4 linked regions of the Homo sapiens genome follow. The protein of the gene in region 1 purifies or fractionates together with the protein of each later gene. This does not show direct contact. Each region holds a gene or a part of one and is shown on either strand. Other genes may lie near its edges. The genes, in order: BBOX1, CIAPIN1, TANK and BOK.

Region 1 (8,602 bases):
ATCAGTGAAATGAACTTTGTGATTAATAAATGTAATGAAAATCAGAATTGGATGCCTCATGGTATACTAGATTAGGCTTTCATTTTTAAGAGTTCACCTATATAGAAAAGTAATCAACTTTTTGTGTGTGTTATAGTGTAACACAGTCCCTGCTTTCTTTTACCTACTGTTTATCTGAGAAAACAAGACACAAATGTATTATTTAGCATTCTCAGCAATAATAGGGGAATGGAAAGCAAATTTTGTTGTAAGATATAGAGGGGACATTATTCTGAGGATTGAAGAATGTTAGAGGAGATGGGTAGCTGGTACCTTGAAGACCAACCTAAAATGAAAAATTGAAGGTTAGCAAGAAATTTGATGCCTTATAACAGAACAGCAGGGTCTAATGTAAGTTTGCATGCTGAGGAAAGGTAAAAAGCCACAAAAGATGGGAGTAACTGGCTATACATTCGCTATACATAAAGGACAAATTAATTAAACTTAAACCAACAACATAGTGGCAGTGAACCAGCAAAAGCAAAACATTATCAATGATGCCAACAACAACAAAAAAAAAACCAAAGAAAGGACTTTTAAAATGATCTTCCACAGTTTGTGTTGTGAATACTCCTCATTAGTGACAGCATTATGTCTCATTGATAGATACAATGTTTTATGGAACTTGTTGTATTTGTTGTGGGAATACTACTACAGTGTTGTCTACCATGTCATAATTTATGAGGATCTGCAGGAAAAATTTATTTCGGACTTCGAAAGCATCTTGTCTTATAACTGATTATAGTCTCTGTTTGCTTTGGTTTCTAGAAATTCAGACCTGAAATAGAAATCTCCCCCCAGTAAGTGTGTTGGACTTCATGCATATTATAACTAGCTAAAATGTATTCTGCATTTTCTAAACTAGGCACAATAGTAGGGGCTTCCATATATTAACTCTGCAATTCCTACTTCAATCATGTGTGGCAGTATTTTTTGTTTTCGTTTTTTTAACTGGAAAATATACTGTGGATCAGCAAGGGTAAATAATCACATGAGAGATTACACAGCTGGCAAGTAAAAGACTTGAATTTACGTGATTGAATGTGTAGTTGATAGGATAGCTGAGTCTCACCGTCATTAATTTTGCTTGTTTCTTTATTGATTTATTTTTCTTTGTACTGAATTATAAGTAATTCAGTCAGCAGCATAAAAGACATTTTTGTACTAGGACATAAAAATTTAAGGATTTAACCACAAAGAAAATTAAATTAACCCAAACACTTAGGAGATGGAGGCCCTCTGTTAACTGAGAACGCTCTGTTTCATTTCCTGTTGTTGAAAATATACTTTTAAGTGAATTAATGTTAACCACTTGATATTTATTCTCTAGGGGCTATTCCTGAGACCTCACACATGGCCAAATTTTGAAATTTTACTACAGAAAATATCAAAGCCAAGTCATGAGCCACATGGTGGACATTCAGTTAATCTTATCTATAGCTATGTTTCTTGCCTCTGTTCACTAGCCTTGCAGAATCTGTAATCGTATTGTGTCTTAACAAAATTTTGATTTGTCATGAATTTTTAAGTTAATATTTGACTAGTTAAAACTGTCACATTATAACTAAGGGTCTCAAGTTATTTCCTTTTCACCTTGATGAGTGAATTCTTAGAAAACGTCTCAGGTTTATTCTGGACTAGAATTTCATTCTTGACGTCTATCTTTTTCTCAGACACTTCCTCCAATCTTTCACGAAAACAATCTGTTTATACATGCAAAATGTAACCAAAAACTGATCCTTCTCCACACCACCACTGCTGTCACTCTAGCCACTCATGTTCAAGGCACCACCATTGCTAGCCTGGAGTCATGCAGTAGCTTCCTAGCTGGTCTTCCCGCTACTATCCTTGCTCTTTCTAGCAGTCAGGGTGACCCATTTAAAATATAACTAAATTTACATAAATATCAAAGTCTTTCCTTTGATCAGGATCTTGCAGCAACTTCTTACTTCACTCAGAGTAAATGTTACTGTTATAATTTGCTAACAAGACTCTACAGGAACTTGTCCCTACCTGACTTCCTCCCCTAATACTTGCATCCTTCACTCTGTTCCAGTCACACTGGTCTCCTTGATGTTCCTTGAACACTCCAGACATGTCCTTAGGACCCTTTTAGAACTTTTGGTCTAGCAGTTTCGGGAAACTGCTTCTCTTCTGAAAACTCCATCACTCGTTTAAGTGTTTGCTCAAATCTCAGTAAAGCTTTCCCTCACCACGCTCTTTAATAATGCAATTTCCGTCCTTGCTAAGCCCTACAGATTCCCCTTATCTTGCTATGCTCTTCCTTTTTTTCTTAAGCATTTAATAATTTTTAACTTTTATTATAATTTACTCATCTGTTTAAAAATCTTTAAAATTTCCCTTCCCCCATTAGAGTATAAGCTATATGAGGGGAGAGATCTTTGTTTTGTCCACTGATGTATTCCAAGTACCAAGAAAAGTGGCTGGCCTCAATAAATATTTGTTGAATGAATAAATGAATGTACTGGGGATTTAATTATTTTCTAAATGAGTTTATTTTCATACCATTTGGCTGTTTCTCTTAATAGAAAAATTTAAACTCAATTCTAAAATTCTAAAATTATACCCCCCTACCAAAATTAATCGAGGTATAATTAAATAAACTGTTGTAGAAACAAAATGTAAGTTAATTTGCAAATAAAAAGATGAATTTGTGGCCTTTGTAGGTACTTGGAAAAATTATAATAAAATAATATTAAATAAAAAGAAAGGGAGAATACAAAATGTTCTGTGTAGGTAATATATGATCTTTGTTGGCTTAGTATCTCTTTGGGGAGCCTCCCTGTTTCATTCTCAGTCCGTGTGATTCAGATGAGGCTGACCCTGCTCCAGAGTTGAACATGTGATCCAGGCATGGACAATCAGAATTCTCTAACCCACTGGCCATGATGATTGATTCAGGGATAGACTTGGACAGAAATTAGGGATTGAGTCATCTAGCTTTATTGGGAAGTAAAAGCATTGTTTGTGGTGTGATTACTAGCTGTAAGGAAAATGAAATCTTGGAGCTTCTGCTGATCATCTTTGAAAAATAAAGCTAACATAGAAGATGGCAAAGCTAAGAAGAAAAAAGAGACCAATATCACATGACATTGTTTAACTCTTGGGATCAACCTATTTTGAGTTATATTCTTTCACTTCTGGCCAAAAGCCTTCTAACTAGTATAATCACATTGATTATAGCTATGTAGAACTTATATTCTAAAAATGAAGTATACGTGAAATCTTAGTTACTTTTCCTCTAATACTGATTAGGGATAAATTTTATGTAATTTAATAAAAACTTTTATGGTGAAAATACTATCACTCTAAAATTGGGTGAAATGTTAATAAAAATAAAGCTCTGAAGTTCGTTGAAGTTTTGTGCTGTTTAAACTTTAGATTAGTGGATCTTTTGTTGTCAATTCTTTTATTGCTATGGGAAATTTATAAATAGTACTTACTCTATAATTTTATGTTTTGATTGTACAGAAAAATCACAGTAATCCACTCCAATGTCTGTAAAGTCCACAAAGGTAGAGGACAAAATCTGGAATGCCTGAGGATTATTTTTCTTTAGTTTTTGGCACACATTAAACCCATCTACAATTTCTGAATCACCCCCTGTGACTGTTTGCTTTATGCAGTGAAGAAGCTGAACCTATAAAAAGAAAATATGCATTATTAAATAAATATTAAATTACATTTTAATTATTAGAATTAATCTTCAATAAAATAAATAATAAAATAAAATAATATACATGCACCATTTTTTGATACTGTGTTAAAGATTCAAAAAGCTATGAATGAACCAAAGCCAATAAACTTTTTTTTTTGTCTTTCTTATGTCATCAGAAAAGAGTTGGGAAGAAAAAAGTTGCTTATAATCAATACTGTATAGTTCAAACATGTTACAGTTGAAGACATAGATGCAGGCATGATAATGCTCATTAGCAAACAAAAAGAACAGCTTGTAAGAGCTGCATAGATGGAGCACTTGATGTTGGAGTAGGCAGGGAAGGATTTCAAGGGGAAGAGGCGGGTAAGTTAGGCAAAGGGGAATGGATGAGATTTGGGTTATGCAGAATAGAACGAGAAAGCAAATCAGGTGACAGAAATAATGATGTGCAAAAATGCACAGTTCACTGGGTAATAAAAAGTCTGGCTACAGCAGAGGGCCATAAATAGAAAGAGTGAATCAGGTTGGAAGGGCAATTGGTGAGGCCTCATGATGGAGAGTCTTAAATATCAGATGAAGGGCTTTTGTATTTGTGCATAGAGGGAATTCACTGAAGGCTTTTGAATATGAAAGTAATGTAGTCGGAACTGAGCTGCAAAGTATTAGGCCAGTGGTGTTACATAGGATTATGTTTTTTTTTTTTTTTGAGGAAGGAACTGGTCAGAGTAGCAAAACAATAGCATAACTTTGTTTTTGGAGGATCACAGTGTTCTTTAAATCCTTTTAGATTTTGCCATCATGAACTGACAGAATATTTCAAGTGCTAATTTTTAAAAAGATCATTTTTTAATGTTATTTACATATGTCAAGGCCCCTTGATACTTTCTTTTGTACAGTTACACTTTTAATACAATCTTCAAATAGAAAAAAGATGATGGAGCCTGACAATACTTTTATTGCTAGGTTAAAACGCAAATACATGCCTGTCATGTATAAAACCCAATTTTACTTCATATGAGTCATTCAGAACCAAAAATATTTTCCTTCTGAATGTTACTTTATGCAGCATGTGACTTCTGCAAAAACAGTGAGTGAAGCAACATCTCTGTTTCATTAAAGATGTGGTGCCTTATCTCTGCCCCACATAATCCAAATCGATCAAACTGAACTCTCAACAGGTAACTCATTTTTCAGATTATTTCATCTATACAGAAAAATATATTGGTTTGTTCTGTTTGTTATAGAAAATCTCAAACCTTGGCACAACTCACCTGGAATAATTCAAAATGGAAGTTTGAACAACAGTACAAACAGGTTGCCTACATTTTATTATTCTAGTAGAATCTAGACATTTTAGGAATCATCTGCTATTTTAAAATCTCCTATCAAGTCACTTAGTTTGGATGTTTCATTTGCTGGAGACAGGTACAGGTTTGTTGCACTTCTTTGCCTCTTTATAGTGTATCTATGATGTCTCTATTACATGCAATGTGCGTGTAAATATTGAGATACAAAGTATTGAAATACAAAGAACTTTTTTCTTCCCAAGAGTCAATTCTTGTCTTTAAGAAGTTTGTAAAGTACGATAAAATCTATAAATATTCTATTTTACTACATAAATTATAATAGTTAGAAATTCCAGCTCAGGATCAGTGTGGTGTGACAGAAAACTAGATGGAGGCCTGGGTTCAAGTCCAAGTTCCTCCTTAATCAAATGTCACCCTATAAAAATATTGAATCTCGTGTTTCATTTTCTCATCTGACATAAAAAGACATGATCAATCTTGTCTACCTTAAAGGAATGTCAAGAAGAGTCAGATAAAATAATGAAAGCAAAACTGCTTTGAAGTAGTATAATGTGCTATGACTATGAAAAAGTCAAGCATTCTATTATACTTCAGGAACATTTATGAAGTCATTTGGTCACTTTTCCTTAGGCTTCAAATTTTAACCCAGAAACAAAACTTAAATTCTTAAAAGACAGAAGATAATTTAAAAATTCAAATAAAACTTTTAGTTTTCTAGTCTCATTCTTTAAGCCTTATTCCATCCAACTCCCTCAAGCTATGTTTGGAAGAAGAGCTGAGCTGATTAATTTGGCTCTTAACTCTAGGGTTTTAGAAAAATCTGAGCCACATTTAGAATAAAATCACACTGGGTGTCTCCTGCCCCCAACCCTTACCCAAAAGTGTGTCTACAGGGGTCATTTTACTGCCACTTAGTTCAAAGAAATCATGTGGTATTTTACAATCAACAAAATAATTTATAACATGTAAAGTTAAATACTAGACTAGCGTAGCTAATACTGGCAAGAAGAATGGGTAACAATAAGGGCACAGAGAAAACATGTACAGTGAAGATAATGAAAAAAAAATTGGGCTAATTGTGATTTTGGCCCATTCTCCTTTGTTAACTTAAGAATTGCCCAAATTTTCATTTGCCTTTGAAGATATAGGTTTCTATGTGGTTATTTCACATAGTCTAATTTAGCTGTAAAAATAGGGATGGCATATCTTTTAAAAGGTAGTTTCCTAACCACTTATTTTTGGTGTAATAAAATGATGATTTTGTAAAAATGTAGCTCATTTAGTAAAATGAAACTTTTGTAAAAATGTAGAGAAAGAATGTCCACCCAGAGATTCTCCTGGGGATTTGTGGCTTCACACTGAGCATTTCCCTCCTTGACAAGGAATCTGATAGATGGGATGTTGGATGGTTTCCAAAAATAGCCACTGTTATTATGTTCCTTGTAGTCACACAGTTTATAATGCATTTTTGCAGCTTCCTCCATAAGCGGTCTATTTCCTCACCTCCTGAATGTGGGCTAGATTTATTACTTCCTTAGACCAATATAACATTGCAGAGGTGACTAGCCCAGGCCTTGAGAAGTTGTGTAGCTGTCTGAAAATTCTTCTAGTTGCCATATGCATTAAACTTGGGCTAGCCTACTGGTGGTGAATAGACCGAGTGGAGCAGAAACCAGCCATCTCAGTGAAAGTCAATCTGTCCCAAGCCAACTTAGCAACCAATTGCAGGTATATGACTGAAGACAGGAGCTGCCTAGCTGAATACAGCCCATATTGAAAAAACAAGGGCTAAGTAAATGGATGTTTTCTTAAGCCATCAAGTTAGGGAGTGAGTTATTATTTTTTTTTTTTGTTATACTTTAAGTTCTGGGATACATGTGCAGAATGTGCAGGTTTGTTACATATATATACACGTGCCATGGTGGTTTGCTGCATCTATCAACCCGTGATCTACATCAGGTATTTCTTCTAATGCTATCCCTCCCCTATCCTCCCAACCCCCCCAACAGGCCCCAGTGTGTGATGTTCCTCTCTCTGTGTCCATGTGTTCTCATTGTTCAACTCCCACTTATAGGCGAGAACATGCGGTGTTTGATTTTCTGTTCCTGTGTTAGTTTGCTGAGAATGATGGTTTCCATCTTCATCCATGTCCCTGCAAAAGACATGAACTCATCCTTTCTTATGGCTGCATAGTATTCTATGGCGTATATCTGCCACGTTTTCTTTATCCAGTCTGTCATTGATGGGCATTTGGATTGGTTCCAAATCTTTGCTATTGTGAACAGTGCTGCAGTAAACATACATGTGCATGTGTCTTTATAGTAGAATGAGTTTTAATGCAGCAGTAGTTAATGGATATGAATGATGCCCATGTGACTTTGAGGGAAACCCTACATTTTGTTTACTGATTTCATTTTCTCTCTTAACTTTCTTAGAAATATATGTGCAAAAAGACCTTAAGATTTACTCCTACCTTAAAATCTGTCTTGGCAAAGCAAAAAATGCTAATAGTAATTTCTAGGAAGAACAAAGAAATGTTTTTGTTGTTGTTGTTGTTGTTTTAAATGAATGAAATTATCCTCTCCTTTAGGAATGTGAAGATATTTAGGATTTAGGTACAGAGATTTTGTGAGCTTGGATTGTGTTTGGAGAAAAAATTTATAAAAGACAAACTACCTGGTGAAATGTGTAATCTTCTAGACTCAAAATACGAAAAGATACTGGTCATCATCATGCTTTGTGGAAAATATGTTGAAGCTCACTTACCCCAGGTGGATGATGGAGGGCTGGATAATCAGTGTGAAAGCTTAGCTTCCCAGTTGTGTAAGCCACATTGTTTGCATCGATTTTGTCTTGCACTTGCCAAGTATGTCTGTAAAATGCAAGAAACACATGTTTAAACAGGTTGTCACTAAGCCAGAGGAAATGCATTAGAATGAATTTGATATGTGGGGAGAAATGGAAACTTTTCATTTTTTGAAATAATTACCATAATGACTATGAGTGAGACAAGGAATCTGACCTTTCTCTGCCTAAAGTCACTATTTCAGAATTAACATCTCCTCATTTTTCCTCTCCTCTCAACAAAAGAGTACATCAGTCTATCCTACAGTTTATAAAGAAGTATATATGGAATTGTAGGTTATCTTTTTACTGGGTTAATGCATTTTAAAAAGTGATTTATTGAGGTGAAGTTCACATAACAGAAAATGAATCACTTTAAAGTGAACAATTCAGTGGCATTTAGTAAATTCGCACTGTTGGCAACCACCACCTCTACATAGCTAGTTTCAAAACGTTTATATTACTCCAGATCAAAACCTCTTATTTTAGTAAGCAGTTTCTTTCCATTCTACCCTTCTCCAAGACCTTGGCAATCACTAATTTGCTTTCTGTCTCTGTGGATTTACCTATTTTAGATATTTACCATAAATGGAATTATATAGTAAGCTCATGCTTTTAATGTTATATCTAAGAATCCACTGCCCAATCCAAAGCCATGAAGATTTACCTCTATGTTTTCTTCTAAGAGTTTTATGGCTTTAACTCTTATATTTAGATAATTTGTTCATTTTGA
Region 2 (7,801 bases), on another chromosome or scaffold:
ACAGCTGGGACTCAGAGCAAGAATCGGCGAGGGCTTGTGGCATTTGCTAGGCCTGTCCAGGAAGCTCTGGCTCAGGATCTCTTGTCCTCAACATGGAGGTTGAGATTTTTGTCCTTCATATGGGCAAGTGCAGCAGAAGCAACCAACAGTGGCCCTGCAGCTTAATAATTATGTTACTATCGGACCAGGCAGTGGCTCACACCTATAATCCCAGCACTTTGGGAGGCCGAGGCAGGTGAATCACAAGGTCAGGAGTTTGAGACCAGCCTGGCTAACATGGTAAAACCCCGTCTCTATTAAAAATACAAAAAATTAGCTGGGCGTGGTGGTACATGCCTGTAGTCCCAGCTACTCGGGAGGCTGAGGCAGGAGAATCGCTTGAACCTGGGAGGCAGAGCTTGCAGTGAACCGAGATCACACCACTGCACTCCAGCCTGGGTGAGAGAGCGAGACTCCATCTCAAAATAATAATAATAAATAATAATTTTGTTACTGTCAAACCATTCTGGGGCTGAATTAGTTTCCTACTGCTGTGTAACCAACGACCTCACATTTAGCTGCTTAAAACACCCATTTCTTATCACAAGTTCTGTGGGCCAGGAGTCCTGGCACAGAAGACCGGGGCCTCTACTCAGGATCTTACAAGGTGCCGGCTAGGCTGCATTCTCAACTGGAACTTGGGGTCCTCTCCAAGCTAACCTGGTTGTTGGCAGAATGCGGTTCCTTGCAGCTGTGGACTAAGGTCCCCTTTTTCTCGACTGTCTGCCAGCATGTGAGGAGCCTGCACTCACAGTTCCTTGCCAATGGCCCTCTCCCTACTTGGCAACTGATATGGTTAGGCTTCGTGTCCCCACCCAAATCTCATCTTGAATTGTAATCCCCATAATCCCCACGTGTCAAGCGAGAGGGGTGGAGGTAACTGAATCATGAGGGCGGTTTCCCCCATGCTGTTCTGATGATAGTGAGTTCTCACAAGATCTGATGGTTTTATAAGGGGCTCTTCCTCCTTTGCTCAGCATGTCTCCTCCCTGCCACCTTGTGAAGGAGGTGTCTTGCTTCCCCTTCGCCTTCCGCCATGATTGTAAGTTGCCTGAGGCCTCCCCAGCCATGCAGAACTGTGAGTCAATTAAACCTCTTCCCTTTAAAAATTACCCAGTCTCGGGCAGTTCTTTATAGTAGTATGAAAACAGACTAATACAGCACTTACTTCTTCATGGCTAGCAAGAGAAATTCTTCTCTAGTTCTTTTAAAGGATCAACTGATTGGGTCAAGCCTACTCAGGATAATCTCCCTTTTAATTAACTTCAAGTCCATTAGGGACTTTAATTACATCTGCAAAATCCCTTCACTTTTGCCACAGAAGGTAACCTAATCACAGTAGGGATTATCCCATCACATTCACAGGTCCTGCTGAAACTCAAGGGGGTTATTACACAAGGGCATGAGTCACTAGGGGTCATCTTAGACCTGTGTATAAAAGGGGCTTTGGAGCCAAACTTCAATTAGCCAAACAAACAACTAAAATCCACCAGCAGGGACTAGGATAAGCAAAGCAAACTTGGAGAATCAAATCAAGTTTCAAGGACAGATATCAATGAAAACTTTTATTTACTGGTAAAATATAAAAATCCAGGTCTCTTAAATCCACACAATCTCTCCAAATATTTGGCAAGATTGATTCCAAGTCCATATGGGTGGATAACAAGAACAAAGGGGTCTCTGCTCAGAGAGACGTATTGTCGTTCAGAGTTCTGCCCTGCTTCCCTCTAAATGCTCACCAACCTGGACTCTTCTAAAGTGGGCAGACAAGCCCTATTCTAAGCGTAGGAATAGCCCCATTTGTGCGTGACACTAAGTTCCTCCAATGGTCCAAACTGAGCGTGGATGACTATCCAACATCACACACAAATGCACATCCCCTCTCTTTACAAGACATGCAGAATCTCAAGATATGTCAAGATATGCAGCAAGTTTAATACCTGAAGGTTAACATAAATGACAACAGGACACAGATGCAATGCTACAGTCAAATGTGGTTGGGGATGGAAGGGGGCAGAGGGACACTGGATATCATCACAGCAACCAGTGAGTGAGTCCTCTGGTGCCCTGAGGAGGTTGTGAGCCACTTGACTCGTGTCACAAAGAATGGAGTAAACTAACAACTCTGAAAGACAAGAGGGTGGCAGCATTGCTGAGATGAGACTCAAGGCAGGGGTCTGCAGCTCTGTCACAGAGTGTTAATGCTCAACGATGCCTGGGCTCAAGAGCGTTCTGGTCAGCATTTTAACATCAGAAGAAGGGCTTCTTCAGGACACACTCCCTTCTCTTAACATGAGGTGAAGAAACCCATCCCATTCTGAAACCAGGTCCCATAATACCTTGGTCTTTTGATACACAGCAGCACTACACACCACTGTGCCCCCCAGCCAGCTTCACTCTGTCTGCTAAGCACCCACTCTGCAAACAGATCTCAGAGTGAACAAATCCAGAGGAGGTGGGAGGAGCCACCATGGTGGGATGTGAGGGACAGGAGTTGGCTGGAGGAGCAGATGGGTCCCATGTCAGGAACCTCCTAGGCATCATGAAGATTGCTATCACTCAGAAGCACCTTTTCCCCAGGTTTGAAGGCTGGCATCCCAAGGTAGGGGCAGCTGGCACAGCGGAAGGCATCGCCCAGGTAGCACTGGAGAGAGAGAATGGGGAAGCCAAGGGTCAGCTTATCCCAGGCATACCAGCCAGAAGAAAGAAATGCCTAATTTCATAATGTGGCCACAGTGGCCTGAAGGAAATGGCTATGTTTGCAGGTCCAATTGAGACCAAAATACTAAGAGTTTTCAAGATTTCTGGTTTCGTGAAAAACTATAGTCATGAAAAGTTCCCTAGGAGGCCATAGTTCTTTTTTTTTTGTTTTTGAGATGGAGTCTCCCTCTGTCACCCAGGCTGGAGTGCAGTGGCGCGATCTCAGCTCACTGCAAGCTTCGCCTCCTGGGTTCCCGCCATTCTCCTGCCTCAGCCTCCCAAGTAGCTGGGACTACAGGCGCCCGCTACCATGCCCGGCAAATTTTTTTGTATTTTTAGTAGAGACGGGGTTTCACCATGTTAGCCAGGATGGTCTCGATCTCCTGACCTCGTGATCCGCCCTCCTTGGCCTCCCAAAGTGCTGGGATTACAGGCGTGAGCCACCGCACCCGGCCTTTTTTTTTTTTTGAGATGGAGTCTCCCTCTGTCACCCAGGCTGGAGTGCAGTGGTGCGATCTCAGCTCACTCCACCTCCCAGGTTCAAGTGATTCTCCCGCCTCAGCCTCTGGCATAGCTGGAATTACACACGTGAGCCACTGCGCCCGGCCATAGTTCTATATTCTATGCAGTTCAAAACACAACCAACTTTAGCTAACTGTCTAACCATCAGGTCCCACTCTGAAGTACAAAGAAATGGGCCAAAAATAAAAAGCAACAAGACCCTCCCTGACCAGCACAAGCACGCTAACCCACTCTCACTCTCAGGAGACAGCCTCTCTCCCCATTACTACCTACGTTCGTGTGCTCACGCATTCGTCTGTTACTAAAATATTTGAGGTGGAGCTTGTCTGTGTTTAGTTTAGAAGAAGGTCTAATCCCCCTGGGGGTTTGTGAATGCTGAGGAATGATCCTGATATTTACGTTTCCACAAGCTGACTTGGGTTGGGAGCTCATCTGTTCCCTTGACTTCTCTTTTTCCAGTTCTTCGGCAAGGCCACAGGTGCTGCGGGAAAATCAGTAACTAATGAACGAGAATTGTCACCACCCAGAAATCCCAAATCCTAACAGTGCCAAAATGTGCTTTAAGCCTTTTCTCTTCACACCAGTGTCATAACTCAGAAGCCTATAGGCCAGGCAGACAGCAGCAATATGAGAGGCTGCTGAGGGAGACAGAAGTGGGAGGAGGATGAGGGAAGTACCGTGTGTGCTCTGTCTACAGAGGGCAGCCACTACTCAAGCTTCAGCTGGTTATCATGCTGGGGAAAGTGGACCCAGATTGCCATATTTTCCAAATTCAAGAACAGAAGGGAAAAAAATCTGTGTTTTCACTTGAAATTTCCTGATTTGTAAATGCTGGCAGCTTTTACATTTAAAAAACACTGATGATTAACGCTGATGATGAACATCACTGATTAACTTTCTACAATCCTTCCCATCCATTTATAAAAACAAATGTGAAGACACCAAGGTCTCGCTCTGATGCCCATGCTGGAGTGCAGTGGCACAATAGTGGCTTACTGGTAGGGTTTTGAGGGAGAGTGAAATTAGATACATGGCACAATTACGGCTCACTGCAGCCTCGACCTCCCAGGCTCAAGTGATCCTCCTGCCTTTGCCTCCCAAGTAGCTGGGACCACAGGTACATACCACCATGCCTGGCTAATTTTTTTTTTTTTTTAATTATTTGCAGAGATGGTCTCCCTGTGTTGCCCAGCCTGGAAAATGTATGTTCTAAAAATAGTACAGCACCGCGATGTCTTCAGCATGAAGCCACTGGAGGCAGCATGGCAGGCTCCAGTCACCCCAGCACTCACCAGTTCTTACAGGCCTTCCTCTTTTTCCCTTCCCCACAAGAAGCAGCCCGCAGGGAAGCTGGATCTGGCTTCTTCAAATCTTCTGGATCCAGCAGCTCATCTGAGTCAATGAGATCCTGGAGAGTGTTCAAAGCAATGAGTGATACAGTCGTGGTCTCTGCTAATGAAAAGCTAAAGTGACTGCAGGCTTCGAGAGGAAACTTGGAGTCCAGGGTAAAGAAGGTGTCCACCCTGTCCTCCTTTTGGTTGATCATCATGTTCAACCTGACCACATGCTCAAGAGGCCAACGGTGAGTTAAACTACATCCACAGAAGATGCACTAGGATGCAAAGGAATTAGAAACAAATTTACATGAGAAAAAGCTGTATGACTGGCCAGCAATGTGTAGAGAATATACACATGTTGGGGGTTGGGGGCAGGAGTGGGGAGAAGGGAGGGAACAGGCAGAACAGAGAAAGAGAGAAGTGTTTATGAAGAGTCACGTGAAAAAGGGAATAAAATATCTTTTACATAATCCCAGATAAAAATCAAATAATTATATATACCTTTATGTAATTCTTTGTAAATGTGTAGACACTTAGTCTGTAAACCCTATGAGAGCATGAACCTCACTTATTTTGCTCACTACTCTAACTTCAATAGTAGAGGTGTAGAAATGAAGAACTTTATTACAGACATGGCCAAAGATAGAAAATAGTGCTTTTTAAAGCATGGAACAGTCAGCAACTTGCCCAAAGGTGCCAATAAAACTATTTAAGCTGACAAAATCTTTTCAGGTTTACACATGCCCACAAGAGTTTTCAACATATCGTATGAAGTGAGAACAAGAAATTATGTGGGGAAAAAGAGATGCTAAAAAATTTAAAATGCCACCAACATGGCCAAGCGCAGTGGCTCACACCTGTAATCCCAGCACTTTGGGAGGCCGAGGCGGGCAGATCACTTGAGGTCAGGAGTTTTGCGACCAGTCTGGCCAACATGGTGAAACCCCGTCTCTGCTAAAAACGCAAAAATTGGCCAGGTGTGGTGGCACATGCCTGTAATCATAGCTACTTGGGAGGCTGAAACATGAGAATCGCTTGAACCCGGGAGCAGAGATTGCAGTAAGCCGAGATTGTGCCATTGCACTCCAGCTTGGGCAAGAGAGCGAGACTGTCTCCAAAAAAAAAGCCACCAACATGGAGTTTCCTTCTAAATCAAAGATGTGACAGGCATAGTCACAAATCTGGGCTTTAAATACGTTCACACCTACAAGTCCAGAAAGGTCACTATAGCTGTTCACACCCAAACTGGGGCCTGAAAGAAAGCAATCAAGTGACAATGCTGCCAGCTCACCATGCTGTCGTCCTCCATATCGTTGGCTGAGAGGGTCCACAGCTTGGCAGCAGCAGGGTCCACAGCAGGTTTCACTGAGTCCAAGCAATAAAAGAAAAAACTCCATAAACACAGTCAGAAACTATTAATTACAAACATACATAAATGCTTCCTGCTGTGTAGAAGAGAACACACTGGCCTGGGAGGCAGAAGATGTGGGTTCACAGTCCAGCTCTACCCCTCTGAGAGGTCTGACCTTGGGCCAACCACTTGCTGATAGTTACAGAAGTCACCATTTGCTAAGCTCTTGCTTTGCACCAGGCACCATATTAAGCACTTATATACATTATCTAACTTAATTCTGCTGACAACCTTATGAGGTAACTATCTGTCATCCTACTTTTACCGCTGAGGAAACAGGTTTAGACACTTAGGCTGGTTCCACAGGCTGCAAAGCCTGTCTGATGCTTTTAACCTCCATTCCATATTGCTTCCTCCTCGATACCTTAGTTTCCATTCTATAACATGAAGTTAAATTGTACTTCCTATGTTACTGCAGGTGTTTTGAGGATTAAATGAGAAATGTGTCAAAACCTTCAAAAATAGCAGAGCTTTAGCCTCATGTAAACCTGCTACATACAAGAAAATAGGCTCTAGAGCTGCTGGTGGCAAGGTAACACCATCAGTGGCAGACAAACCTCACACTTCCTGGTTCTCTGTCTAGTCAGGAGAATGCAAGGAAGAGGCAGAGAGCTGAGGCTCGGATGCAGTGTGGGCAAATCCTCGCAGGCCCTTGGGGTAAGAGTACCCTCTAGTGATCATTGTCACAGCTGGATGCTCATACCTTCCACAAGGCCAACTGTTCTAAGCTATTCCTACCCATTCTGGAACCATGAATCGAAAGGTTAGATTCCAAAGGATTTCTTGAAGATTTAGGTTAGACAGTCAAAACCGTACAAGTGGGAATGTACCAGTAAATATCTGTTAATGTCTGCATACCTCACAGCTGGGTCAATTCAGGCATTTAAAAATAGGGATAGGAAGGATGAGGATGGAGCTGTGTGTGTGTGTGTGTGTGCGTGCGCGTGCGTGCACGCGTGTGCTTGTACACAATTTTCTAGTCAGAAGAAATATAGTTTTATAAGTGTCTTAGCATCCTCAAAGTAAGAACAGCTGATTTTCCTGGCATGGGGAAAAAAGCACATGAGAACAGGAACAGGGCACTCTCATACACCATTACCACTACACTGTGAGGTCTTCTGAGGAGAAACGTTAATTCTGGGACCTGGAAGGACCTCATTAATTAAACTGTGTGACTCAGTCCTGTAAAATTAGGAGGCCTCGGTATCTTCTGGTGCAGAAGAAGGAGCTGAACTAGATAATACCTATGTATTATTTCAGTTTTGGATCCTAATATGCCCATGATAATAGTACATTAAGTATTCTTCTTTGTGGAAATGGCAGAAATCAAAGGACTAATCCTCTAAAAATATCACCATCTCATTTATTGCTGGCTCAATTTCTAACATGTCCCTCTAAGCCCATTCAAACAGAAGAATGTCCCTAGGCCAGCCTTACCTGAAGGAGAAGACTTCTTGGTGATGGAAAGCTTAAGCTGCCTAGAAGAACCCACTTCAAAGTTTGGTTTTTTGCCTGTGATCTGAACAAACAGCAGGTTGTCACTTTCATGACCAAGGTGTTCTCGAACAGACTGTACTTCCTCAGGGGTTAGGGGCTCCCGCTGCAGCTAGAATTCAAGACATCAAAAGGATTAGTTCACCCTCCTCTGTAAAATGGTTTACTATGTCTACCTACACAGGAGTCAAAGACTCATTTCTGTGCATTAAGGATGTAACAGTGGATGGTAACAGATAACACTTTATGCCTCACATTCAGTTTCTCACTGATCAGAACCCTAGAGTATAACCTTTGT
Region 3 (8,602 bases), on another chromosome or scaffold:
TGAATAACAAATTTCTCAACAAGAATATGAACATTTCTAATCTAAGTTAACAAATATAGATAGTCCTTGCAGGGTTTTAGATTTTCTCCCGTTAAAAACAAATGTTTCTTTAGAAAGTTTAGTTTGAAGAATAATTCTAAAATTCAAAGTGATTCACTAATTGTAATAAATGCCACCAAATCTGGTCATCACCATTCTATTAGGTTACTGAAATGAAAACATGAATTTTATAAACTTCCCTAAAAATGTGATTCCTTCCTTCCCTTTTTTTTTTTTTTTTTTTACTCAGGAACAAAGGACATACAAATGATCACAACATAAGTACCTCTTAATATTTAATTAATTTCATCATGTAGCTATACACACAGTAAAAATTAAAGCCATGTATATTATTTAAAAATCTAAAGTGTTTAAATAATTCTACCAGTTGTTTTATCACTGGACAAGAAATGTATTAGGTTTGATATTTACAAAGATGTTTATGTTGTCTGCTATTTTCTATTATAGGTTTATTCAAAGAGAATATCACCTATAGCATAAATAATTAAATTTTTCAATAAAAACAAACTAAAAAAACCCTAGAAACATTTGACATCACCAAATTCAACAGCTCTCACTAGAAATCCAAGCAATAAACTTAGATATTTGAAATAAACATAAATTATGATTATATAACTCTAAGTCACATACATAATTTTGAATTATAGTAATAGCACTGTAAACATGAATACAAAGGATTACAGTTTTATACAGAATTTTTTTTGTTTTTCTTCTTTTAGGCTTATTTCTCCTTGAAAGAACAGAATGATCTTTTAAAAAATAAGAGTTATATAGTAAATCCAGAAAAAAATTCAAATAGCTGTGAAACTAGATTTTCCTATAAATGATCTTGAATTTAGTTTACAATCAAGTATTTATAGTATTAAAAACCCAAAATCATCACATAGAACTTGATATGTCTGTTTTCAAATGTGTCTTAAGTCTCTCCATTGAAGTGTGAATTAAGATGCCGAAGGAAATCCCCCCTGGATGTAATGGATGGTGGGAAAACTGCTTGACAGAATTCACATACTCGAGGTATATGCAGTTCTGAGTCTGTGCCACTTAGTACCACCGAGTCACTGTCTTGATTAGGAAAGGGCTTCCAAATGGGCTGCAGGAAACAAACAAAAATATCTGTTACTTATGTTTAAATTCAAATAGCACTGGACTTCAAATTTGAATTTCTGAATGAGTTACGCATGGGCATATATATTGAATTCCCTAATATAAAAGCAAATTACTTTTCCGTAAAGTTAGCATGACATGACTCAATTCGTGGTTTCATAAAGGGCACAACTAAACTTTGATTAAAAGTCACTTGGGACACACACAGTCATGCATTTTATCTTTATATATTTAAAAAGATTGCAGCTTTAGCATGCAATTTTTAATACTCGATCACAACAGCAGTAGTTTTGGAACAATAGCTAATACTCTGGTCTTTTAAATTAAATTCTATCTTTTGTTTTTTACAATAAAAACCTTAAATTATAGGGGCTTTATTAATTACATAGTACACAAGACATGATGTGTGTGTGCATTGCGTCTTAATCAAAATCAATTTCACTACTGTTTATAAGCAAATACAGTGAATACATCATACATGAATCAGCATTATTTTGATTTTTAAAAAGAAAATTTTCCTTTTAAACTACTGAACAAATTTCACTGATGTTATCTTTTGTTTTTAAAAACACAAATATTTAATCATTCAACAAAATCTAACACATGCAGTGTTTTGACTTCTTACTTTGCTTCTGTTATATAATAGGTAGTTTGGCCTTACTCATTCTTGTGGCTGAATAAAGTGAAACTCGTCAATAGTTGCCTGGTTAAAGAATTATGGAAAGTCATAATCTAACAGAACCACCTCCACTATAACCAGCACATAAATACCCTTTCATAACTGCATTTATTCTTTTTTTTAAATTTCTAGAAGGACAAGAAATAGCATTTAGCTTAATAATAGCTACACAATAGATGTCTGTTAACTGGAAAATATTTTCCTGAATTGTGTAAACCAAATTATTTTTTAAAATTTCTTATGTGGACACAGGTAAATTCCTCTGACACAGCTAAATTCTGATATTTTAAGAAGAATCATCTCATAAAGTCAAATTTAAAGAGACCCCTTATCCTCCTATTACTAATATGTTTTTAAAGTCACACATCCTAGTCTAGCACCTGACAAGTGTTACTGTTATTTCCCCTAACTTCTTTCATTCTGGTTAACCAATCATTTACATAAACAGTATATTACTAATGGAAGCACTTGGATTTCACGACATCACTGTCTTCTTATGAACAGTTTACTGGACAGCTGTGTACAATTGGTGTAAATATACAACGTCTGTCTAGGCACCCAGACACATTCAAATATCAGTATGGAGGACTTATAATAATGCTGACTCAATTCCTTTCATAAGAAATGTCAATTTTATTACAAAAATAGTAATATTTAAAATAAATGTTATAAAATTTAGGGTAAAATAACTCTCTGGAAAAACTTCTTTGATAAAAGTAGTAAAAATTGTGAGCATACAAACAAAAATCTAGTTAGAGTTAACTTGATTCTAATTTTAATGTTTTCAGTTTAAACAAAAAAGTACAAATCACTGTAATGGGAAATTGATATGGCCAAAAATAAAAGATTATTAAAGATAATTCTTATTTATATAAAATAGTAAGAAATTAAATCAGAAGCAATTTAGCTTCTAAATTTGGTAAGCCAATCTTCTACTCCCAATTTACCTATTAAATCCATATTCATTTTTCTCTATTAAGAACTTTTAGTTCAGATTTGATCTCTTCATAGAATTTAGTTGGGATCCCACTCACTGACTCAGCAAAGTAAAAAAGAAAATCACATAGAACAATAATAATCTGATATACTTTAGTCTTGGTTATGATAGCTGAATATATAAAATAGATGTTTAGTAGTAATGATTGATAGAAAGTAAAATTTTGAAATATGTAGCCAAAAATTTCACTTGTCTTTGCTACTATCTACAAACAACTCAGGATTTTTTTAAAAAAAAAATTATTATTATTATTTTGAGACAGGGTCTTGCTCTGTCACCCAGGCTGGAGTGTGATGGCACCATCACAGCTCACTGCAACCTCGAACTACCTAGCTCAAGCAATCCTCCCACCTCAGCTTCCCAAGTAGCTGGAGGCCACAGGCACAAGCCACCACACCCAGCTACATATATCTATATAACTATACGTATTTGTAGAGACAAGGTCTTACTATGTTGCCCAGGCTGGTCTCAAATTCCTAGGCTTAATCAATCCTCCTGCCTCAGCCTCCCAAAGTGCTGGGATTATAGGCATGAACCACCGTACCTGGCCCAACTCAGGAATTTTGTACTTATACTAGCTTTGTACTTATACTAGCTTGCATAATACTAGCTTTATTAATACTAATAAAATAGCTTAAAAGGTTTTTTTTAAAAAACTCATTTTAAGAAATATTCTTTCCATCCTAAACTGTAACATGGTCTTCAAAACAAACTAATTTCTTTGCTTTTTCTGCCAAAATATCAATTATCTAACCTTATGCCCCATGTCTTGTGACAACTCAACACTAATTCTCCTGAATTTTTTAAGCTGAATACTTTTCCATCAAGTTGTAATCACATACCAGCTGTTTCCCTTGCTGTAGTATAGAAAGCAAATGTACAATGCAGGGTGCCATCTACTGAAACATGAATGCACAGACTAGTAAAAGAACAAGCAAGACATATAATAGAGAAAAAAGTAACAAGCATTAGAACTGATGCACTTCACAGCTCCACAGGAATTCTACTTGCAATAAATGAAATTGTTTAATTTGTTTCATTTAGTAGCAACTATAACTGAGACTATGATGTGAAATAAAGTACAATGAACAAGAACATAAGTGAGGTTATAATTAAAACTTATTGTCAGCCATGCCTAGTTCTTCCCACTACTAAAATATACCACAGCTTGACAACTGCCTTCTTTGCGTGCTGATTTAAGTCTATAACCTATATGTGTACTTAAAGCAAAAGGGTATTAATAACTTTTTTAAAAAAATTAAATATCTCAAGGCAAAGAGAAATCAGACAAATGTTTGCAAGTTACATAGACATTTACATCAATCTGTATTTTCATAAGCTTCTGTTTTTTGTAAAAATTATATAGTTTTCATTTGCTTTCAGACATTAAACTTTTTTTTAACTAAAAGAATCATTCTGTGATAGAATTTGAATCTAAAAGGGAGGGCAGGAGTGGTTTGGGGGATATTAGTCTGTGAGCTTTAGAAACATTAAATAAAATATTTGATATCATACACATGCAGAGACTATTTAAAAAATATACTAGGCTACATGTTCATTTCCAGATTAGCAACCAAAACCAAACTAAACCCTACAGATCTGTGTACTATATAACTGAAGATGTAGTAGAAGTATTCACTGAAAGATAGTTCACTTATTTTGATAAATAGAAATGTAAGATGCAATTATTTACTTATGAAAGATCTTGAATTCTTATAAAGATGAATATGATATACACAAACTATTAAATAAAACAGCATTTGTTTCACACTATGAAATTTAATATTCTTATTAATCCTGAGTAAACAAGCTTTGAATAAGGAACTAAGAAAGTGACACCACGACAGATATGGATAAGGCTTAACATGTATTTTTAAATCTGACATAAATTCTAAGGTACTTTCCAATAAAGTTTTACCATATTCAGCTTTTCTAATTTCATGTCATTTATTATGGGACTTGTTTTTTTGAAAGCCTTAACTTTGGCTGTCAGTAGTTTAAAAAGGATGTTTGATAACGTAAAAGAGATGCATATCTGTGCATGTATGGCAAAATGTGTGTTCACACATAATAATATATTTGTTAATGCAAAACAGTTACCTGCTGTGGTCCTCGGATTGCTTTTCCCGGGGAATCGAGTGAGGGAAAAGGTGCATCAGATGGGTCCAGAAGTGGGAAGCTATTTACATATAATGCATTATGGTCTCCAGGTGGCAAACACGCAGCTCTATCCAGAGTTGTCCTGATACAAGTGTTTACGAGATTTGAGGGCTTTGTTTTGTCAGTTGTTTTAAGGTTTTGTATAGCTGAAGCTATGGGGTCAATTCCCTGAATTTCAAATAAAGTTTCTTCTGTTTTAACAAAGTTCCCTGGGTTGTCTCTGAACTCCATATTAAATTTCTCTTGGCACACTGCCTCAGACGTGGCAGGACTAAGGATGCCGGGTCTCTCTGGAGTGCTATGTAAGAAAGTTGAGTCATTGTCCATAGGTGGAAACTTGACATTGAATTTAGAAAGTGATTCAAAAGAGGTGTCTTCCTCATCTCTGCACAGTCCTCTTGGTGTGACAGATGTGATGGATGGTGCACCTCTATTTATATCATCTTTAGCCTGAGGCTTAAACAGCGCTTCTTGTTTATCTGTTTTATCCGTACACTGTATAGGCACAGAGCACTGTGTTTCTGGAGGGAGAAGAACACAAAAGAGAAACAGCCGCATTCAAATCATTAAAAAAATCTGTTCAATCAGCTTTGGAGAGATTATTATTATTTTTTCTATTGGTTTTTATAGCAAATGAAGACAACTGGGATTTTAAAATTTGCTACCATCTTACACAGAATATTAGCAGTCTCCAGCGGGTGAACTGAAACATAGCTTATTAGTCGCAATTTAACTACTTTGTCTTTTCCTAAGTCTTCTGCCGTAAGCTTTGCATCTTGTTCACAGTTACACTGCTCCACACTTGAAAAACATTTGCTTGTAGTGTATACATTTAAACATTTTGTCAGTAACGGAAGCTATAACTGTGAGTTTGCTTAGACAAATAAGTTGTTAAAAGGGAAAATCTTACTAGGTATATCTAAAATTAGGTCATTTATTATTAATGTCACTGTCTAACTAAGTATATCACTAATCAGTTTAGCCACTGTCTGCTCTCAATAATCCATGTGAGGGACTGGTGGTTGCAGGAGTTGGGAAAAAGAAGACAGTGAAGGCAAAGGAAGGATGAAATATTGTGATGCATGTTAAGAAAACTGTGGATGAATAGATTATTTTATCATCTTATATCTTTTTTTAAAAAAGACCTCTGTAAAAAACAGGTAAATATCTGGTAGACAAAAGGGCCTCTGTAGCTCATTTATCTAGAACCACTTATCCAACAAATTCAGCTTTGTAGGACACAGTCAAAAGCTAGAAAGAAAACAGAGCTTCTGAGGAGCCAGAATTAGAGCCACAAGGTTCATAGATAGATGAATTTTGTTCCTATTGTCATTTTAGATTTATTCTAACAAACTTGGTGGTATTTCCACAGCTCATAGCTGGTTTGAAACAGCAAATTAAAAGGGAGTATGAGTTGCTAAAGGCAGACATAGATATCAACAAGAGCTAAAAGCATAGGAAGAGATAAGAAAGACAAAGAAGCTGATATAAGAACTTAGAAAACACTACAGTCTAGTATAGGGCCAATGAGTGCTCAATACAAAAAAACAATCATCAAAGTACTCTCCATGTTGATGATTCTGAGACACTAGAAAAAGCCAAATTAAGCTCCACAATGTCCCTTAAAGAAGGCACTGAAGTTGGTAATGTATGTATTTTAAGGATTGTCATCAGCACTGTTGAACATTCACAAATGGAGACATTACCAATGATGCAAATCTAGGTAGACAGGGTATACAGAACACAAGGTATACAAAGTATCTGTACAGGTTAGTAGGCACTTAACAAATGTCAGTTCCTTTATATTCCTTTGGTCTTGGCAGTCTCATGACACCTCTCTGTCTTTTGCCACAGCACATTCCAATATATTTTTTTCTGTTTGGGTATGTGTAGTAAAATGCAACCAACTTCTTTGGTTCATTTTGTTATATACCTACTGCCTCTCTTTATACCTCTCTTCATACCATCCTTTCTTATTGGATTATTATAACAGCCTTTAAACTGCTTCCTTGCCTCTGAATTTGTCTCATATCCAATCTGTTCTCTTCACTGCAACTTCCCCTCCATCCCTTCATTCTCAGAGTAGTTTTTCTAAAATACTAATCTGACCAAGTTACCTTCCTAATAAAATCTTTTGATGGCTCTACAAGCCCCTCAGATCTCAGAAAAGGCTTATTAGACTGTTCATGACTGGCCCCTGGTCATCTCTCCATGCTCATCTTTCACTCCATACTCTGGCTATAATGAACTTTGTATAGTTCTCCAAAATAGCTACACTCTCTTGTCTTTGCACCTTTGCACCTGCTGTGCAGACTGCCTGAAGTGTCCCCTCCCATTACTCTTTGCCCAACTCTTATTTGTCCTTCATATCTTGGCTTGGACATAAGTTTCTCTGGATGACTCTCCCATGACTCTTGGATGCCCTGAGAACTGAAACACACTGTTATATAGTTATGTGTCACTTAACGACGGAACATTTTGAGAAATGCAGTCTTAGGCAATTTTGTCATTGTGCAAACATCATAGAGTGTACTTACAGAAAGCTAGACAGTATAGTCTACTACACACCTACATTATATGGTATAGCCTATTGTTCTTAGGCTACAAACCTATACAACATGTTACTGTACTGAATACTGCAGGTAACACAATGGTATGTGTGTATTTAAACACTGAAAAGGTACAGTAAAAATATGGCATAAAAGATAAAAAATGGGTATGCCTGTATAGAGCACTTACCGTGAATGGAATTTGCAGGACCGGAGGTTGCTCTGGGTGAGTCAGTGAGTTAATGGTGAGTGAATGTGAAGGCCTAGGATATTACTGTACATCACTGTAGACTTTATGAACACTATACACTTAGGTTACACTAAATTTACAAAAAAAACAAAATGTGCTACAATGTAACAACAGCTACCTACAATGTCACTAGGGTGATATTAACTTTTTTTTTTTTGAGACCGAGCTTCGCTCTTGTTGCCCAGGCTGGATAGAGTGCAATGGCATGATCTTGGCTCACCGCAACCTCTGCCTCCCAGGTTCAAGTGATTCTCCTGCCTCAGCCTCCCGAGTAGCTGGGATTACGGGCATGCGTCACCACGCCCGGCTAATTTTGTATTTTTAGTAGAGACGGGGTTTCTCCATGTTGGTCAGGGTGGTCTCGAACTCCCAACCTCAGGTGATCTGCCCAGCTCAGCCTCCCAAAGTGCTGGTATTACAGGCATGAGCCACTGTGCCTGGGCTGATATGAACTTTTAAGTACCATTATAATCTTATGGGGCCATCATTGTATATGCAATCTGTTGTTGACTGAAAATGTCATTTGGCACATGACTGTATTTCCAAGTATAACTCTGTTTCTTCCCACTAAAGTAGGTTTTTTGAGGTCTTAAACTGTTTTGTTTCCTTCTAACTCCAGACCCTTGCCCAGTGTCTGGCACATAGTATGCCCCTAACAAATGAATTCTGAATGAATCTGTAATCTCTCCCCTACAAAGCCTACTATAATAATCAACATTTACCAGATACTCTATGACTAGGAGTGCTATAGTAATTGTCACCAAGCTTAATTGTTTATCTGGATTTCTTTAGCCTCTGAG
Region 4 (8,046 bases), on another chromosome or scaffold:
GATCCACCTGCCTCGGCCTCCCAAAATGCTGGGATTACAGGCGTGAGCCACCGCGCCCAGCCATTTATTTATTTTTTTGAGATAGAATCTTGCTCTGTCTCCCAGGCTGGAGTACAGTGGTGCGATCTGGGCTCACTGAAACCTCCACCTCCTGGGTTCAAGTGATTGCCCTGCCTCAGCCTCCCGAGTAGCTGGGATTACAGGCGCCCACCACCATATCCGGCTAATTTTTGTATTTTTAGTAGAGATGGGGTTTCACCATGTTGGCCGGGCTGGTCTTGAACTCCTGACCTCAGGTGATCTGCCCACCTCGGCCTTCCAAGGTGCTGGGATTATAGGCGTGAGCCACTGTGCCCAGCCTGCCTTCTGTGGCTGAGTAACATCCACCACATTTGTATCCATTTATCTGTTGAAGGATACTTGGGTTCTTTCCACCTTTTGGCAATTGTGAATTGGCTGCTGTGAATGTCTGTGACTGAGTGTTTGTTTGAGCTGATTTATGTTTTCATAACAAATCCAGGTTGGCCGCTGTATGAGGGTGGATTGGAGAGCAGTGCTTCATCTTTGCATGTACAGTGTCCTCAGGCTAACTCCCTCCAGGGACCACTGCTGACTCCCTCCGGGGACCGCTGCTAACTCCCTGCGGGGATCACTGCTGGGCTGCATGTTTTGTGGCCATTCAGATACTGCCAGTGCCCTCAAGCTGGGCTTCCCACCAAGGTTTACAAGGCTGTGCAGTGGCCTGAATCCTCACACTGCCATTTAAAAGCATGTATTTATTTATTTATTTAGAGACGGGGTCTCGCTCTGTCGCCCAGGCTGGAGTGTACTGGCGCGATCTCAGCTCACTGCAACCTCCGCCTCCCCGGGTTCAAGTGATTCTCCTGCTTCAGCCTCCCGAGTAGCTGGGATTATAGGCGCGTGCCACCACGCCTGGCTAATTTTTTGTGTATTTTTAGTAGAGACGGTTTCACCATGTTGGTCAGGCTGCTCTTGAACTCCCAACCTTGTGATCTGCCCGCCTCGGCCTCCCAAAGTGCTGGGATTCCAGGCGTGAGCCACCGCGCCTGGCGTAAAAGCTTTTAATGCAACAGATTACATTTTGTTTTAATTTGCCTTTCTTTGGTTATTAATGAAGGTAAACATTTTTCGTGTCTCTTATTATAATTTTCTTTTGTGAATCAGCTGTTCCAGTTCTGTGCTCATAGTTCTTTTTTGAAAGCCTCTCTTTTCTCGCTCACGTATAAGACGTCTTTCCGTGTTGAGGCGTCGTGTCCTGCCTTTTATTCTTTCCCCCGCTGTCACCATCTTTCGTCCTCTCTTTCAAGGCTGCTCCCATCTCAGTTCAGCCTCAGCAGGTTAGGGGTCTGGGGAAGGCAGTTTCTCTGCGGGCCTCAGCTTCTTTATGTGTAAAATGTGGACGCCAGGCCTGTTGTGGGAACAGGCAGCCCAGGGGTGCCACCCGTGAGGTCACTGGCTGCTCACTCCATCTGCTGCTGCCCTCAGTTCCCTCGCCTCACCCCACGTTGTCCCTGCGGCCTCCTGCACAGACGTGGGCTGGGCAGGTGTGCAGTGGAGGCCGAGAAACCTGCCTGCCCAAGAACTACCTGACAGGCATCCTGTCAGGGAGCGGTCCCCCCTTGGGACGGTCCCTGGTCATTAGCTGGACGGCAAGCAGGACAGCGGCTCAGAGAGGCCCAGCCCCTTCCTTAAGTGCTCCCGTGGGCGGGATTCAAGTCCTGATCTTGACCATCTCTCTCCCTGCAGGCATCACGTGGGGCAAGGTGGTGTCCCTGTATGCGGTGGCCGCGGGGCTGGCCGTGGACTGTGTGAGGCAGGCCCAGCCTGCCATGGTCCACGCCCTCGTGGACTGCCTGGGGGAGTTCGTGCGCAAGACCCTGGCAACCTGGCTGCGGAGACGCGGCGGATGGGTGAGCGCCTGAGTGCCCGTGTGGGTGGGAGAGCTGGGGTGCGAGGGTGCAGAGGTACAGGAGGGAGTGGTGGATGGGTGAGCCTCTGAGCGCCTGGGGGGTGGGAGAGCTGGGGTGCGAGGGTACAGACGTACGGGAGGGAGTGGCGGATGGGTGAGTGTCTGAGCGCCTGGGGGGTGGGAGAGCTGGGGTGCGAGGGTGCAGAGGTACGGGAGGGAGTGGCGGATGGGTGAGCCTCTGAGCGCCTGGGGGGTGGGAGAGCTGGGGTGCGAGGGTACAGACGTACGGGAGGGAGTGGCGGATGGGTGAGTGTCTGAGCGCCTGTGGGGGTGGGAGAGCTGGGGTGCGAGGGTGCAGAGGTACAGGAGGGAGTGGTGGATGGGTGAGCCTCTGAGCGCCTGGGGGGTGGGAGAGCTGGGGTGCGAGGGTACAGACGTACGGGAGGGAGTGGCGGATGGGTGAGTGTCTGAGCGCCTGTGGGGGTGGGAGAGCTGGGGTGCGAGGGTGCAGAGGTACAGGAGGGAGTGGTGGATGGGTGAGCCTCTGAGCGCCTGGGGGGTGGGAGAGCTGGGGTGCGAGGGTACAGACGTACGGGAGGGAGTGGCGGATGGGTGAGTGTCTGAGCGCCTGTGGGGGTGGGAGAGCTGGGGTGCGAGGGTGCAGAGGTACAGGAGGGAGTGGCGGATGGGTGAGTGTCTGAGCGCCTGTGGGGGTGGGAGAGCTGGGGTGCGAGGGTGCAGAGGTACGGGAGGGAGTGGCGGATGGGTGGTCACCTGAGCACTCCTGGGGGAGATGGGTGAGGCAGGGGGTGGGGCAAGGGCCGAGACCTACAGGCAGGCCCTGGACTCTCCTCTGCCCAGATCCAGCACTGACTTACCCCCGATCCTACCCCTGTGCTAAGGACCCGCTGCCCCAGCCCCCGCCCTCCCGAGTGGGAAAAGCAAGGCCCCGAGGGGTGGGTGTCAGAGCCAAACCCTTCCTCTGTCTCCACGCCCCCAACTTCCTGCCCTGCTCCGGCCAGACCGCAGTTGCCGCTGGGCCCTGGGTGTGGAGGGTGGCTCCCCTGCCGAGAGTCTAGCCTTCTTTCCTGTACAGCGGGTGTTGGCCTGGTGTGTAAATCAGCGGCCAGGGGTGACAGCGCTCAGACCCCTCTGCTGGGGCCTTAGCTTTAGCATCTCGAGAGATTGAGGTCACGTGGTCTGCGGGGGCTGTGGTCTCCTCTGAAGGCTGAATTGGGGGTGCAGAGGGCAATGTCCCAAGATGTCGCACATGGCTACAGGTGTCCCTCAGCACAGAAACCCCAAGACTTCCGTCCCCTCCTGTCTTCCTCCTGTGGAGTCTGGCATGGGGCTGGGCACTGTGTGCCCAGTGGGCGACGACACTTTGAGCAACGCCAAGGCCACAGGTCCAGGCTGCAGGGAAAAGCCTTCATGTATTAGCAGGAAGTGAAGGGAATAAGAGAATTGGACGTTCATTCACTTCCCCAGAAGGAACTTCAGAGTCCAGGGAGTCCGTGGGCTTCCGGAAACGCAGTCCCTGCTGTTGTTCCAGGCAGAGTCTGAATGAAGCTGGGTTTGCCCCTTCCTGGTAGCCCAGGCTCCAAGGCCCCACAGGAGGATGACGGCGGCATACCTGTAGCCCCTGGGGGGCAGCAGGCAGGTGGCCGAGGGGAGCTGGCACCCTGGTCTGGATGTCTGGAGCCCCAGCGAGGGCCATGAAGGCCTCTCTCCTGCTCGGCAGGGGCCCTCCGGCCGGCCTGCCTGGCTGCCATCTGTCCCCACCTCCCGTGCCTCCTGGCCCTTCACACTGTCTGAATGTGCACGGCATCGGGTCTGGTCTTGTGTTGGAGCCTTCAGTCCAGGCCACAGACCTCCTTCCCGAACAGTCTCCTGCATTCCCTTCATGCAATTTTGCTGATATTCTGGTGCACGGTGCTGGGGGGCCTGGCGGTGCTGGGGGCCTGGCGGTGCTGGCTCTGCTTTCTAACGGTCTCCCTCTTCCCTCCCAGACTGATGTCCTCAAGTGTGTGGTCAGCACAGACCCTGGCCTCCGCTCCCACTGGCTGGTGGCTGCACTCTGCAGCTTCGGCCGCTTCCTGAAGGCTGCCTTCTTCGTGCTGCTGCCAGAGAGATGAGCTGCCCACCTGGCAGTGGCCGCAGCCTGGCCCTCTGGGCCCAACGCAGGAGGCCCTCAGCACCCGAACACATCTTCCTCCTCCCCACCCGAGCCTGGAGCACTCTAACCCTCGGAGACCCCCTAAGCCCCGTTCCTCCGCAGACCCAGGCCCTCCGGAAGGGGTGAGTGGGGAGGGGCTTTCCTGAGCCTGGAGCTGGGCTTTGGGGCAGCCTGCGACCCTCCCCGCTTGTGTCCCTTCTCCTGTGATCTCTGTGTTTTCCCTTTTCTTTCTGGGGCCAGGAAGTCAGGGTCAACTCCCAGGCCTCAGATGCAGGGGCCCAGAACACCTGCTCTCACCTGAGCCCCAGGTGAAGGGGCCCGGGAACACCTGCTCTCACCTGAGCCCCAGGTGAAGGGGCCCGGGAACACCTGCTCTCACCTGAACCCCAGGTGAAGGGGCCCGGAACACCTGCTCTCACCTGAGCCCCAGGTGAAGGGGCCCGGAACACCTGCTCTCACCTGAGCCCCAGGTGAAGGGGCCCGGGAACACCTGCTCTCACCTGAGCCCCAGGTGAAGGGGCCCGGGAACACCTGCTCTCACCTGAACCCCAGGTGAAGGGGCCCAGAACACCTGCTCTCACCTGAGCCCCAGGTGAAGGGGCCCGGAACACCTGCTCTCACCTGAGCCCCAGGTGAAGGGGCCCGGGAACACCTGCTCTCACCTGAGCCCCTGGTGAAGGGGCCCGGAACACTTGCTCTCACCTGAGCCCCAGGTGAAGGGGCCCGGAACACCTGCTCTCACCTGAGCCCCCGGTGAAGGGGCCCGGAACACTTGCTCTCACCTGAGCCCCAGGTGAAGGGGCCCGGAACACCTCCTCTCACCTGAGCCCCAGGTGAAGGGGCCCGGAACACCTCCTGTCACCTGAGCCCCAGGTGAAGGGGCCCGGGAACACCTCTCACCTGAACCCGGGGGTCCCATCCCAGGAAGAAGGGCCATCTCAGGACATGAGTCCTCAGGGGCCCTGCACATTCAATCTGAAGGTGACCCTGGCCTGGCTGAAGCTGGAAGAGCTGTGGGGACTCAGCCTGTAAACAGAGCGTAAGGTTCACATGCTGGTTGCTTAATCCGTTTCTGGAGGAAGAGTATGACACCCACTTGTGATGGGGTCCTTGTGCGGTGGGGACCGGGGCCGGCGGGCTCCAGGCCAGCACACCTAACCCATGGATGTGGAACCTACGGCCGAGAAGGAATGTTGCATGAGTCGGATCCCAGTCCATTGTCAGTGGAGGGTGAGGGTGACCCCATCTGCTATTTTTGTGCTCATCCTCATACAACCATTTGGGGATGTGCCTATTAGGGCTCCGTAAGAACTCAGATGCCTGGGAAGCCCAGCCCCTCAGGTGCCCCCACACACAGCCTTCCCTTGACGCCTACATTTCTAGGCACATGTGAGGCATCTTTCCTGGAGCCCCGAGCCAGCCCTGTCCCTCCCCAGTGCAGCATGGCACTCAGGAGATACAGGCTGGACATGGGGCAGTCGTTCTGGGGAGGCCTGGCCTAGCAGCCACCCACCTGAGCCCTCCCGGCCAGGCTTCGTGCTGGGGTGGGCCATGTGCCAGGACAGGAGGGTCCCGGCGGAAAGCCAGCCCCGGACTCATCGTGACATTGAGATCCCACTGGAGGGTAGGGGTGGTAATAAACTTCTCCAAACGATCGTTGTCATTTTAGACAGAATGTCACTGTGTGTGTGTTAAATAGCTTCTACCTATACACAACATGGTAAGAGGTGCGGAGGGTTTGCTTGAAAATAATTGAGGGTGGGGAGTGGCGAGAGGGTGGGGATGGGAGGGTTCCTGGAATTGGGTCTTTATCCTGATTAGATGTAAAGGCACTAATGCTGATTTCCAGTAGTAAAAAGAACACCGATAGTCCATAGTGTGATGTGGCAATAGAGGTATGCATAGTATCACCACTGGGTGCTCCTAATTAAATACTTGCAGAAGGCAGGGTTCTCGGTGGCTTTTGAACACTTTCATCAAACTAGAGTATAATGGGCCAGGACCAGTAGCTCACACCTGTCATCCCAGCACTTTGGGAGGCAGGAGGATGGCTTGAGGCCAGGAGTTCAAGACCAGCCTAGGCAACATAACAAGATCCCATCTCTAAAAAATAAAATTAGTCAAGCACGGTGGCCTGCACCTGTGGTTCCAGCTACTCTGGAGGCTGAGGTGGGAGGATTGGTTGAATCTGAGAGGTTGACGCTGCAGTTAGCTGTGATTGTACCACTGTACTCCGGCCTGGGTAACACAGTGAGACCCTGTCTCAAAAAAAAAAAGCCGTGTGTGGTGGCTCACGCCTATAATCCCAGCACTTTGGGAGGCCTGAGGCGGGCAGATCACCTGAGGTCAGGAGTTCAAGACCACCTTGGCCAACATGGCAAAACCCCAACTCTTCTAAAAATACAGAAATTAGCCAAGTGTGGTGGCAGGCACCTGTAATCCCAGCTACTCGGGAGGCTGAGGCAGGAGAATTACTTGCACCTGGGAGGCAGAGGTTGCAGTGAGCTGGGATTGCCCCACTGCATTCCAGCCTGGGCTACAGAGTGAGACTCCATCTCAGAAAAAGTATCATGGGAGTGAGCTCAGGATTCAGATTCCCAGCTGAAGTGTCACATGAATAATCTGAAAGTTATGACTGTCCCAAGAGAGACTCTTACCTCCTTTAGCTGCGGGTCTGAGACTACTGAAAATCAAACCCAGAATCTCGCCCTTCCAGTGGCTGGATTATAGCACATGTGGAACTCCCAGCCTCACGGTGTCTGCTGTGCAAATGAAGGCATTGGTTAGGAAGGAATGGGATCCTGTCAGTTGGGATGAGGATGTGTGGGGTGACCCTGATGAACAGTGAAGACAACCCCTAAATCCTGATGAGTCTTCAGTGGAAGAGGCCTTCCTAACCCTAGTGGTAGCCTCCCCAACTCCATCTGAGTGGGTTAACCCTGTACTGCCTGAGGAAATGGGACTGCCCTGAGGCTGCTGACTAGCAGGACCAAGCTGCTGCTTCCCAGGATCTGCCCCCACCCCTCTTTGCTTCTAGACATGGAACTAGACTGATGTTGGGCAGCCCCTAGAGATACAGGGCGTGACCATGAGGAGATGCACTTACCAAAGAGAACGTGAGTTTTCCAGTTTACATAGAAATCCCAGGACCGTGGGAATGCATATTGAGGGCCTGGGAGAATGGTAGGAGGAACACAGAGTTAGATCAGGCCAAGTTTATTGATACGGGCTCACTAAGCAGAGATTCCGCATTTAGAAAGGGCTCTAATTGGTTGGTTGGCTGCTTGGCTGAAACATGGGCCAAAACATGGCCCACCATGGGATAACTGGACATGCCTGGCCGCCCATGGTTAGTGTAGAAGAAGGGATTCAAAGGCTTAGGGAGATTGGAATGCTAGAGTGGATTTGTCTGCCCCATGCTGCTTTCGTTCCCCTGCTAGAGTGGATTTGTCCTCCCTATTCTCCTCTTCCTCCTCCTCTGCAGCCCTCCACTACCCTCCTCCTACATCCCTCCTCCTCCTCCAGTCCTCCTCCCTCTCCCCTTCCCCTGCAACTCTCCACCACTCTCCTTCTCCCACTGCAGTTCTCTTTTCTTTGTAGCCCTCCTCCTCCTCCCCTGCCAGCTCTCCTCCCCCTCCCCTGCAATACTCCTCCTCCCCTTGCAGCCTTCCTCCCTCTCCTCCTCCCGCTGCAGCCCTCCACCCTCCTTCCCTGCAGCTCTACTCTTTTCTTTGTAGCCCTCCTCCTTATCCAGCCCTCCACCCCTCCCCTGGCAGCCCTACTCCCTCCCCTTCCTCCTCCTGTCTGCAGCCTTCAACTCCCTCCTCCTCCTATACTTCTCTCCCTCATCTTCCCTCAGGACCCAGCCCTAATGCCAGCACCCCAAGCCTTCGCTGACCCTTAGCAGGGAAGCTCCCGACTGGGTGCACGCGGCCGTGCC

What was found.
Region 2: the proteins of BBOX1 (region 1) and CIAPIN1 purify together in Homo sapiens (affinity purification with mass spectrometry; 2 studies listed by BioGRID and IntAct, with this or other methods). This does not show direct contact.
Region 3: the proteins of BBOX1 (region 1) and TANK purify together in Homo sapiens (affinity purification with mass spectrometry; 3 studies listed by BioGRID and IntAct, with this or other methods). This does not show direct contact.
Region 4: the proteins of BBOX1 (region 1) and BOK purify together in Homo sapiens (affinity purification with mass spectrometry; one large-scale study listed by BioGRID and IntAct). This does not show direct contact.

The regions. Positions count from the first base shown.
Region 1 is NC_000011.10:27,114,747-27,123,348, reverse strand, and holds part of BBOX1 (gamma-butyrobetaine dioxygenase), read right to left. Parts: intron 7,898-8,602; coding exon 7,792-7,897; intron 3,701-7,791; coding exon 3,504-3,700; intron 1-3,503. UniProt on the Homo sapiens protein: Catalyzes the formation of L-carnitine from gamma-butyrobetaine.
Region 2 is NC_000016.10:57,426,598-57,434,398, forward strand, and holds the end of CIAPIN1 (anamorsin), read right to left. Parts: intron 7,616-7,801; coding exon 7,447-7,615; intron 5,964-7,446; coding exon 5,890-5,963; intron 4,670-5,889; coding exon 4,554-4,669; intron 3,743-4,553; coding exon 3,661-3,742; intron 2,684-3,660; coding exon 2,573-2,683; 3' UTR 1,590-2,572; downstream 1-1,589. UniProt on the Homo sapiens protein: Component of the cytosolic iron-sulfur (Fe-S) protein assembly (CIA) machinery required for the maturation of extramitochondrial Fe-S proteins.
Region 3 is NC_000002.12:161,227,893-161,236,494, reverse strand, and holds the end of TANK (TRAF family member-associated NF-kappa-B activator), read right to left. Parts: intron 5,525-8,602; coding exon 4,944-5,524; intron 1,154-4,943; coding exon 977-1,153; 3' UTR 265-976; downstream 1-264.
Region 4 is NC_000002.12:241,568,358-241,576,403, forward strand, and holds the end of BOK (bcl-2-related ovarian killer protein), read left to right. Parts: intron 1-1,767; coding exon 1,768-1,931; intron 1,932-3,939; coding exon 3,940-4,065; 3' UTR 4,066-5,774; downstream 5,775-8,046.